2 separate regions of the Homo sapiens genome follow, and region 2 is linked to region 1. A link means that fine-mapping ties the variant in region 1 to the plasma level of a protein whose gene starts in the linked region. Region 1 holds a variant in brackets. A gene starts in the other region. All regions are shown on their reverse strands.

Evidence for each region. PIP is the chance, under the fine-mapping model, that this variant and not a neighbour inherited with it causes the effect. The UK Biobank Pharma Proteomics Project read protein levels with antibody pairs (Olink). The fine-mapping took linkage between variants from a reference panel, not from the people measured, so its PIPs are less certain.
Region 2: TG starts here. The variant in region 1 is fine-mapped to the plasma level of the TG protein (UK Biobank, PIP above 0.99).

The regions. Positions count from the first base shown.
Region 1 is chr2:217,369,068-217,374,594 of GRCh38, reverse strand. The region is part of intron 8 of DIRC3 (disrupted in renal carcinoma 3); the gene reads left to right. Among named protein-coding and RNA genes, the nearest start is that of DIRC3-AS1, 89 kb to the right of the region's middle. RefSeq lists an enhancer at 3,400-4,599. The variant A/G (reference allele first, on the strand shown) is at 2,532.
Region 2 is chr8:132,863,911-132,868,910 of GRCh38, reverse strand. It overlaps TG (thyroglobulin), which reads right to left and starts at 1,953. Exons shown (of 48, transcript NM_003235.5): 1 at 1,844-1,953; 2 at 688-796. The coding sequence starts at 1,910.

The DNA.
Region 1 (5,527 bases):
TATACTGAGAGAACTGAATTCAAACAAATATATCATGATTTTATTTGCCAGAAATTAAATAAACATTACTCGAATTTATGAGTTTGCTAATTATTGCCTGTGTCTTCAGTATTAAAACTAAGATCAAGACCTTCCTCTGTATATAACAAGAAACTATATCCAGCTATTTATCTACATAACAATATCTGTATCTGTGTCTATATCTCTATCTATGTATATCTGTATCTATATCTAGCTATCTGCCTACCTGTGTAGATCTAGATATATTATAATGGCTCAGCATTTGCATTCTGTGGTCAATGCACAGCCTACATGCATGCACTTTGCTGTAGTTCACAGTCAGACTCAATTTCTGACTTCTAAACACTAAAATTTCTTTATGGTGCAGAACATTGTACCACAGTACTCCAAAACATCGCCCCCATAAAAAAATCTACCCAATACGAAAAACTAAAATAAAAGCAAAGAACAGGCTGCAGCTATGCATTTGAATTAGTTTGATGGAGCCCATCCTTGTATGTTATTGTGAACATTGTATTTGATTTGGGGTGATTTACAAAGGAGGTTCATATGCCTGGGCCCTTTGAAAACCCTAAACTCTATTTAAACAGTGGATTTATAAATGTGTATCCTTCACTCATCAAGCATTTTTGAGCTTCTGCTGTGTGCCAGGATGGTATCAAGACTCTGAGGATATAGAGTCAAAGGAGTATAGTCTTTGCCTCAAAGAATTCACAATGTCATCAGGACTTGGCCGATAACAGTTGGAGGTGATAGGTGTCAGGATAGCAGGTGGTAGACACAGAGTACAGGGGAACCTCTAGGAAGTGGACTTGACTTCCCAGATGCTGTCTGGTGAAGGTATTTTTCCTGGAGGGGGTGATGGTGCTTTGGCAGATTCACAGGCGTTAGCCAGGTAGAAGGAATGTGGTGCTCGGTCTGAATGTGTTCAGGGAGCTGTGTGTGCAAGGCACAATCACCCTAGAAGGGCTTGTGCCACTGTAATTCTGTGCCTGGAGCCTCCAGGGCAAGGCTGTGGGAAGAAGCCAGACTGATGAGATAGTGAGTGAGAAACAAGATCCCAAAGGGTTAAAAAATCTCCAGGTAATTTGCAAACCAAAGGTTACCATGTTCATGTTTGTGTTTTGTAAAGATGTTTCTTCTTTAGCTCCGGCCTATGATTATCTCCTTGAGAATGGATCTACTTTCTATCAGTTGACATACACAGTTCACAAAGAAAAGACTTACTAAATTAGATTATGTAGAATATGAAGCACCAATTAAAAGCAGAACACAGAACAAACAGAAGTGTTGAGTGCAATGTATGCCAATTTTTAAAAATATAGCCAGTGTTGTCACCACTAGATACCTATTGGTTCAGTAGGGTTGGTAAACTTTTAAGGACTGGCAGGTTTTTAAAACCTTTAGCAATGTAATGCTAAGAGATGCTGTCTTTGAGGACTTTCAGATGAATCCTGGAGTGGAAGGTTCCTTTGGCTCTGCCTCTTGGAGGAATTGTCAGGTAGGAAAAGAGGAAGAAACTTGTTCTGGAACAATTTCAAAAGGGGCCATGTGTCCAGACTGGGGACAGAGAACCTTATCTGATTCAGGCTGTACCCTTGACATGAGGCAAAGAGCAGGTCTCTGGAGTCAGACAGCCATCGGCGGGGAATCTCAGCTCTTTTGCTTGCTGGCTAAGAACATTTCTCTGTGCCTCTGTCTCAGATACTCACCACAGCCTACCACTTGGGGCTATTGTGAGAATTAAATATAAGTTAATGTGTATCCAACAATTAGACTCATGCCTGCACCTACTAGATTCTTCTTAAATATTGGCTATTATCATACTGTGTGATTTCCATTATAAACTTAATGAGGCACCTGGCACATAATTAGATGCAGTAAACATTCATTTCCTTTCTCATTCAATACTGAGAAAATAGACATGGAGTGACGGGTATGATGGAAAGAATGTAGTTCAGGAGTCAGGGGCTTGGTGTAGATGGTCTATTGATGATCCGCCCAGCTCTGAATCTTTGTCCCTCCAAGCAGAGCCAGGGATCTGCCTATGGTGTGTGACTCTGGTTATTACTGTGCTGAGCCCCCTGCCCTGCGCATGGAGATGCACAAGCAAACCCCACATCTTGGAAAACTGCATCCTCTTCGAGGCCAGGAAACTGCTCTGTGCCACCCTGTTTCCCAGGGGCCCCAAATAGTCTTCCTCCATTCAAATGCATTTGCATGTCCTCCAAGTCTGACTGAGGCTAGAGGGGATTTCTTGTAATCCGTGGCACATTTCTTTTGATTTGAAACTCTCTCTCTCTTCATCTTTACCAGGGTCCCAAGAGGTGAAAAGTCCACTTTAGTAGGTGCCAGGTTCAGGAATTCTCACAATCCTCTTAGGCTCTGAAGAGCCCTGAGATTTCTCTGTTAGTACAATGGCCTGATTGTGCCGCCCCGTCGCAGTCCATTGACAGGTCGTCAGGCCAGCTAAAAGCTCATCTTAAACAACTACCTCCAAGCTTAAATCC[A/G]AACACCACAGCTGCACTTCTGGAACCAGGTTTGTTTTCCCAGAATATCAGTTACAGCATTTTAAAAATGAGCAACCTCATTATCAACAGTGTTTCTGAGAAGCAAGCATTCTTGTAGAAAATGCCAGCTCTGCAGGGCTGGCAGGAGCTACACGGCACACACATTCTCTTGCCCGCCACCCCCAGCCTCAGGCATCACTCAGCCAAACCCACGAGTGCAGTTTAGCAAAAATGAACACCAGAACTTCATTCCTATAAAGGAGCGAGGTTCCTGGGTGCCGGAAGAAGGGAGTGAGATTTCCTTCCTCAGAGGTCCTGGAGAACAGGAGAGAAGCTTGTTCCCGTAAAGAGTCAGCCTCACTTTACCAGAGGGAATCTTGGATTTGAACCTGGGTTTTATTTCCCAGCTTTGGCATCTACTAGTCGTGTAATCTTCAACAAATACTGAAATTTTCCCAGCCTCAATTTTTTTTGTCTGCTAAATAGCGGTAATTATTTCAAAGATCAAATGAAATTATACACAGGAAAAAGACTTGCAAATTAGAAGGCCTTTAACATTTAAAAAGAAGTATCTTATTCCTCTTAATATGATCTGTTCTTCTTTTATACATACATGTGTATGTGTCTGAACTAATCAGGCTGCTGTAACAGGAGACCATTGACTGGTTGGCTTAAGCAACAGACATGTATTTCTCACAGTTCTGTAAGATGGAAGTCTGGGATCAAGGTACCAGGCTGTTCGGGTTCTGGTGAAGGCCCTCTTCCTGGCTATGTCCTGGCATAGCTGAGAGCAGACAGAAAAGAAGCAAGCTCTCTCCTGTCTCTTAGAAGGACACTAATCCCATCAGGAGCACTCCACTCTCATGACCTAATTACCTCTCAAAGGCCCTGTCTCCAAATACCATCACATTGGGGGTCAGGGTGATCATAGAGCAGCATGTAGCTTACCTCTCTTCAGTTAAACCGCAAACCCTTAAGAGTTTTGGAGGACAACAGTTAATTCAAAATAAGTTCAAAACACTGCTCTTGACACAATGCGAGGCACAGAGCAGACATGAAATAAAAGTATGGAGGAATTATTAAATATTATTCATTATCTATTTAAGAATGCAGGAAATTATGTAACATATTGTTTTTTTAAAAAATCCAAGTATACTTATATCTACACACAGATATAGACGTATCGTGTGTATGTGCGTATGTTTCTTTACCTGCAAAGTGTAAATATCTCTTTCCAGAAGACTCAGCTCTCAATGATTTGTTTGTGTTTGAGGCAGCTTGGTGGCTTATGGAGAGCATGGAATCTGCACTGAGAGATACTTCCATTCAAAAGACCTGCTTCTTACTCGTGCTGACTTGAGGCACATTACCTAACCTCTCTGAGCTTTGAATACATCCGTAAATTGAGTCAATGCCTCCCTCACCAGGTTGTGGTGAGGATGGAATGAGATAGCACATGCAAGGCATTTGTCATCATGCCTGGCCCTCATTACTCACTCAATACAAAGCTGTCATCCTACCAACATGACAAATGGGGGAAGAGGAGGGAAGAGAGTGACAGACATGTGGTTTGGATGGCTCATGCAACAGGCGTCCGGGGGTGACGGGTAATGCACTTTGAAGGTCCCTATAATAATATAACCCAGCTCCATGCAGAAGTAAGCCCAAAGGAACAGAGGGTCAAATTAGAGTTTTGAGGCTGAGTATATGTCTCCATTCTAATGAAAAACCTACGGTCAACCAAGGTTGATCTTTTAGAAGACACTTTAAGAGCCTGTCCAGCACTTTGGGAGGCCAAGGCGGGTGGATCACGAGGTCAGGAGATCGAGACCATCCTGTCTAACACGGTGAAACCCCATCTCTACTAAAAATACACAAAATTAGCTGGGTATGGTGGCCCACGCCTGTGGTCCCAGCTACTCAGGAGGCTGAGGCAGGAGAATTGCTTGAACCCAGGAGGCGGAGGTTGCGGTGAGCCGAGATTGCGCCACTGCACTCCAGCCTAGGTGACAGAGCAAGACTCCCTCTCAAAGAAAAAAAAAAAAAGAGTCTGTCCAAGGAGAGGTTCTGACTTACAGTCTCTGGGCAAGTCAGGAAGTGGGAAGTGGGAAATGGGAAACACATCATAAACATCTCTTTCTCCATTCTTTTCTTAGGTGATAACACCGTCTATGTGCTGATGACTGCCAATGTATGCCAAATTTATATATCCACCCTGAAAATGTCTCCAAAACTTTAGGCTTATAAATGCAGCTGCCTCATCTATATTTCTTGTATATCTATTATATATATACACACACACAGCTCAACTTAAAAGTGCAAAAGTCAGTTTTTGGTCTTTCTCCATCTCCTCCTTTATAACTTTCTCTTAATATTCCTTGGATTTCAAGACTGATTCCATGCATTATTGCACCACCTTTTTTTCCCCTAAGTAAGCAATAATAGCACAATGTACTAGGCTCCAGGGACTGTTCTAAGTAACGGGAAGATAGAATAAAATAAGAGACTATCACTGCCCTCAAAGGGCTCACTAAGTAGTAGGGGAATCAGCACATTGTCCTGAAAGTCTCAATGTTGTAATGCTGTAGAACAGAACAGGGAGATAGATGTTTCCATGGAATGATACTGAAGAGATGACATTTTTAGCTGCTTCTTGAAGGATGATAAGGAGGTTACTATTCGATGGGTATTGTACCATTACTGTCCCCACTCAGTTAACCTCCATGTATTTAAGAGAATTATACACACACATCCCATAGATCGGCTTTTGCTATATGACTTGCATTTGCCAATGGAAAGTGAGCAAAAGTTACGTGGGCTACATCTGAGCAGAAACTTTCAAAAACATCATCAGGTTACACAGCTCATTTCCTTCTTTTGCAAGGGCAGTGTGTTCCAGGGAGGGATTTCTCCTCCAGCCCAGATCTCAAAATGAAGAAGACTCAACAACCAGGACTTAGGACAAACGAATATGTAGCCCAGGGAACTTTAGCCTA
Region 2 (5,000 bases), not on the chromosome of region 1:
TTCCCCTGATTCAACATGACTGGAATAGCACAAGGAAATTTCAATGCATGCACATTGCAAAGGATTCCTGTCTATTCTGCAGGGAAGAATTGTCTAGATTATTACCACACTCTCCACAGAGAGGGTCTCAGGCCCCAAGTCTGCATTAGGGCAGCTGGAGAAACCCCTTTCAGAGAGCAGCTCAATGTGGAGACAGCGACCCAGAAGCCCAGAGGCAGCCTAGAGAGCTAGTCCGGGCAGGGTCGGTGGCAGCTAAGGACTAGGAAGTCAAGGCAGCCTCTGCTTCCACCACCCCAGCTTCTCAAGAGGATACTTGGAGGAGGGAGAGGTCCCAAAGCACAGATCATTTGACACTCTCCTCAACCTGCCCCACTCCCCACACGTGCCGTTTATTCAAGCCATCACAGAAAAAGTGATGGCAAGAAGAGAAGGGAGGGCAGTGGGAGGATGAAGCATGGATTGGGGTTCACTTGGTCAGATTGTCCAGTGTTGAACAGCTTGGGGAACTGAAAGGCAGGCACCTCCAAATGACAGTGGAACTGAAAGGCAGGCACCTCCAAATGACAGTGGCCAAGCCTCACATGCACAAAGGAGTTGCAGGGCAGAGCTCAGGAAGAGGGGGGAAGGCACAAGATGCTTTTTATGGCATCTTGGACCTTGAGAGTTCGCTGCTGACATAAGCCTTACTGGAAGCTGCCATCCTCTGCACACTGGGGCACGTAGTCTGCTTGCTTCAGAAAGGCCGTTTCCCTCTGCAGCTCACAGGGACGAAGGGGCTGGGCATCCACCTGGTACTCTAGGAAAAGAAAAGTGGTTCATCAAAGAAGAGTGTGGACTGGGCTGCCAGGACAGAGACGGGCTCTCATAAGCACAGATGCTTTTCCAGGGTCATCATCATTACCTATGACAGCCTATTTTAAAATTTGGCAGCTAAGCACACTTTCTTACAAGTATGACATTAGCTCATTTAATGTGCAACATTCTCCTAAGAGGTGACAGGCAATATATCCTTGTCACTCATGAGGCACCAAGTCTCAGGCAGCGAAAGTCGTCTGCCCAAAGTCACGTAACTGGCAAGTGAAGGATCCCAAAATCAACGCTGGGACTACACGTTCCCCGCCCGCCCCCACCCTGCCGCAATTCCCATGAGGCTATTTGGAGTAAGTTAGAGAACCGTAAGGAAGTTCTTCTTGAATCTATCAAGCCATGCCCTGCAGATGTAACATGTTCCAGATAAACATTGAAATACCAATTAATTAATAATGTACATGACTTATTTTTCCATTGAGAACTCTTGTAACACATAGGGTCCTACCCAGAAATCACAACCGCATCATGAGGTGTGTGTTATTTGTTTACTTTTTAAATGAAAAAAAAAAAAAAAAAACAGAAGCTTGGCACTTTGCCCGAAGTCATATGGGTAAGTGGCTGAGCCAAAGACAGAACTTAGGGCTATTTCACTTCATAGGTAGATTTCTTTTTCTACTGCTTCTAAAATACCTGTTATGGATGACACAGACTTTGGAATAGCTAAGGGGATAAAAACCCAAGGTCAATGCCAAAAGTTTGCCAAAATGGTGGGGTGAGGAGGACCTAGAATTGAATTAGGAAGATCAACCACATTTCCCATTTCTGCTCCATCAATCACTAGCTCTGTGACCTCAAGTAATTCAGTTCGGCTCTCTAAATCTGCCTCTTCATCTGAAAAAAAAAAAGCAAATCACTGACATGTGGGAATTTGTGAAGATTAAATTAGATCGCACCTGTTCGAAGGCCCAGGGCAGAGCCTGGCTGACACTGGAGCTCCCTCCCCACCGCCTGGCTCCATGGCCTCAGAACTTACCGAAGATATTGGCCGACACCCAGCAGATGGAGGCCAGCAGGGTGAAGATCTCCAGGACCAGGGCCATTTTCCTGGCCCTTCCTGGGAGGAAGGAGGAGAAACCACTGCTTGCCCTAGGTCCCCTGGCCAGGGAGCTTTTATAGAGCTGCCGTTGGCACTTTCCTTCCCACCCCCAGGTCCTCAGTGAGGCAGTGCCCCATCCTGTTTTCTCTGCTGGTCAAAAGGAGCTCCCTCCACCTGTGTCTACTCCTCCTGAGGGCACTCGTGTGGCCAGTGGAGCATGAGGATCTTGTCTAAACTGTGGGGGAACAGAACGGGGTGGGGTGACTTCAAAATCCTTTTTTATGGGTAAAGACCAAAGCTCTGTATCTTTGGAGGGAACAGGCTCAAGCCCACAGTGAGGGAAAAGCAATCCTTTGTTCTTTCCTTCCCCACCCTACCCTTTCTCCTTCTCCTTCCTCCTTCCTTCTTTCCTTTCTTCCTTTCTTTCTTCTTTCCTTCCTTTCTCCCTTCTATCCTTCTTTCCTTTCATTCTTCCTTCTTTCTTTCCTTCCTTCCCTCTTTCTTTTCTTTCTTCCTTCTTTCCTTCCTTCCTTCTTTTCTTTCTTCTATTCTTTCTCTAACAACCTCTTAGAGCTCCACAGTAGCAGGCACCTAATCTAGACAATGAGGATATGGCAGAGAACAAAACAGGCAAAATCGTGCCCTCATTAATATAGACTGTGAAAACTTTGGTGAGGGAAGCAAAATACACACACACTCATATTCATATTTCTATTACTTTCCTCTCTTTCCTAGGACCTCAGACTTTGTCAACCAAAAGATAGCAGGAACTGTGTATTCCACAGAAAGCCTGTATGTCCATTTGGTTTCTCCTGGCAAACATGGCTTCCTTCCTTCAGTCCTGTTCCTGTGAGACCTGGAAAAACTCACCTCATCTCCCTGAGCCCCAGCCTCCTTCTCTGGAAAGCAAAGTTAAAAGGAGAATAATAATATGTCCCTATTTGTTAAGGTAGTTGTAAGAGAATAGACATTGAAGAGCACATGCTTATTAGACACTAGCAGTTATTATTATTATTATTGATTTTCTTATTTTGCAAAAGCATCATGCCAGGGAATGGCAAGTATTCAGAAGACCAATCCAGCCAGGTAAGGAGCTAGTGACAGATAGGGTCAGGAACTGGCAGGTAATGAGGGCAGGTTGCTGAGCCTGGCACCTGAGGAGAGATGGAGGGACCTGTGAGAATCTGGAGGATATGGTCCCGGGTAGAGTGAAGGGCAGGAGGACAAGCTGGAAAGTGGAAGAGACTCCAAACCCTGGGGAAAATAAAGGGGCCGATATAGCTGCCGTGCCGTAGACTGTACTACCTTCCACAAATAGGGTTGCTATGAATATTAAATGTGTTAAAATATGCAAAGTGCTTAAAACAGTATTTGACACATAATAAGTATCCAGTGTTAGCTACTGTACTAGTCTGCTATGGGTGTCATCACAAACTATCACAGACTGGGTGGCTTAAGTAACAGAAATTTATTTTCTCATAGTTCTGAAGGCTGGAAATCCAAGATCAAAGTGTCAGCACTGTTGGTTTCTTTGGAGACTCCTCTCCTGGGCTTGCAGATGGCCATCTCCTCCCTGTATCCTCACTTGGTCTTCCCTGTGTGTGTTTGTGTCTTAATATTTATTTCTTTTAAGTACACCAGTCATATTGGATTAGAGCCCATCCTTGTGACCTCATTGTGCACTTAATTACCTCTTTAAAGACCCTACCTTCAAATGCGGTCACATTCTGAGGTCCTGGTTTTAGGACTTCAGCATATGGATTTGGGGGGAGAACACAATTCAGTCCATAACAGCTACTGTCATCATTGTTGGGTTCCTGATATAAACTAGAGAAAGTAAAACACAACAGTCATTTGAAGTGTCAGGGTATGGGATTAAAAACAGGGGAGAACCCGTGCTCTGCCCGTCCTTCTTGGGGACCACACATGCCTGGAACTCCCACATCTCTCTCTAGCTCAGTCTCCAGCCAGACTTTTTTGAGCTCAGATCCACTCTGCCTGGACACCCTACAGGTATTTCAAATTCAACATATCCCAACCTGAACTCCTCAACCTTTCTCCTGACATCACCCCATTGGCTGTCTCTGTGATAGTAAATCCGAGCCCCATCCTAGGCTTCTCCCCTCAAGTCTTACCAGCCTCCAGGTCCTACCAGGCTGCTGCTCATTTCTACTTCCTTGGTCCTCCCCTCCTCTGCATCCTCACTCTTCCTGCCTCCGTCACATCCCTACAGCTCAGAACGAGCCAGCCAGAACAGCCTGCTGTACTGCTCCTCACCAGGGCTTCCCCACCAGCTGCAGGAACAGTCCTCTAAAATATGGCCATCCATGTCACTTTGTAGATTCTACAAAAAGAGTGTTTGGATCCTGGTGAATCAAAACACTGTTTCCATTCTGTGATATTAAACAGCACATCACAAGGCTGTTTTCACGGGTGGGGATGGAGACTCAGCCAACAGATGCTCAGGAGGTGCCGTGGCAGGAAGATCAATTCACCCTGGGGAGTGGGAGGACAACTTGGATTAAGACCTAGATGTTAGGTAAAGGTGAGCTGGGGAGTGTATTGGCATTTACTGGAAAAGGCAATACAAGAGGAAGAACTCACCTGCCTGACTCCCTGCTACCTCATTACATAGGCCAAGTTCACCCCAGGCTATGGAGAGCTGGCAGCATCCTTCTCTCTACAGCAATATAATAAGCACAGCATTGTGCAGCCCCTGGTCATTTCTCCATTTCTACATGTTCTAAAGCAGAAAAGTCTTAGAAAAAATTGAATGTGGTTAAAGATTTACCATAAACCTCACTCACCACTCTTCCCATTGCCCTAAAATGCATGCATAAAGCTTGCACAGGTTGGCCTGTGTGCTGAATCATTCTTGCTGGCCTGGCCCCTGAGAAGCAACCCACAGACCCATGCCAGAAGTGTCTCTGCTTCACTGGGTTTGGTGCTTTAGGAACTCTGGGCTCAGGGTTCATGAAGCAGGCCAAGATATCACTGGAATGAGGAGTACTATGAGAGAGGAATGGCAGGTCTGTGAGCTGACTCCACGTCAGACCCCACCTGGAGAAGCAGCAAGGTGTTAGGAGCCTGTGGG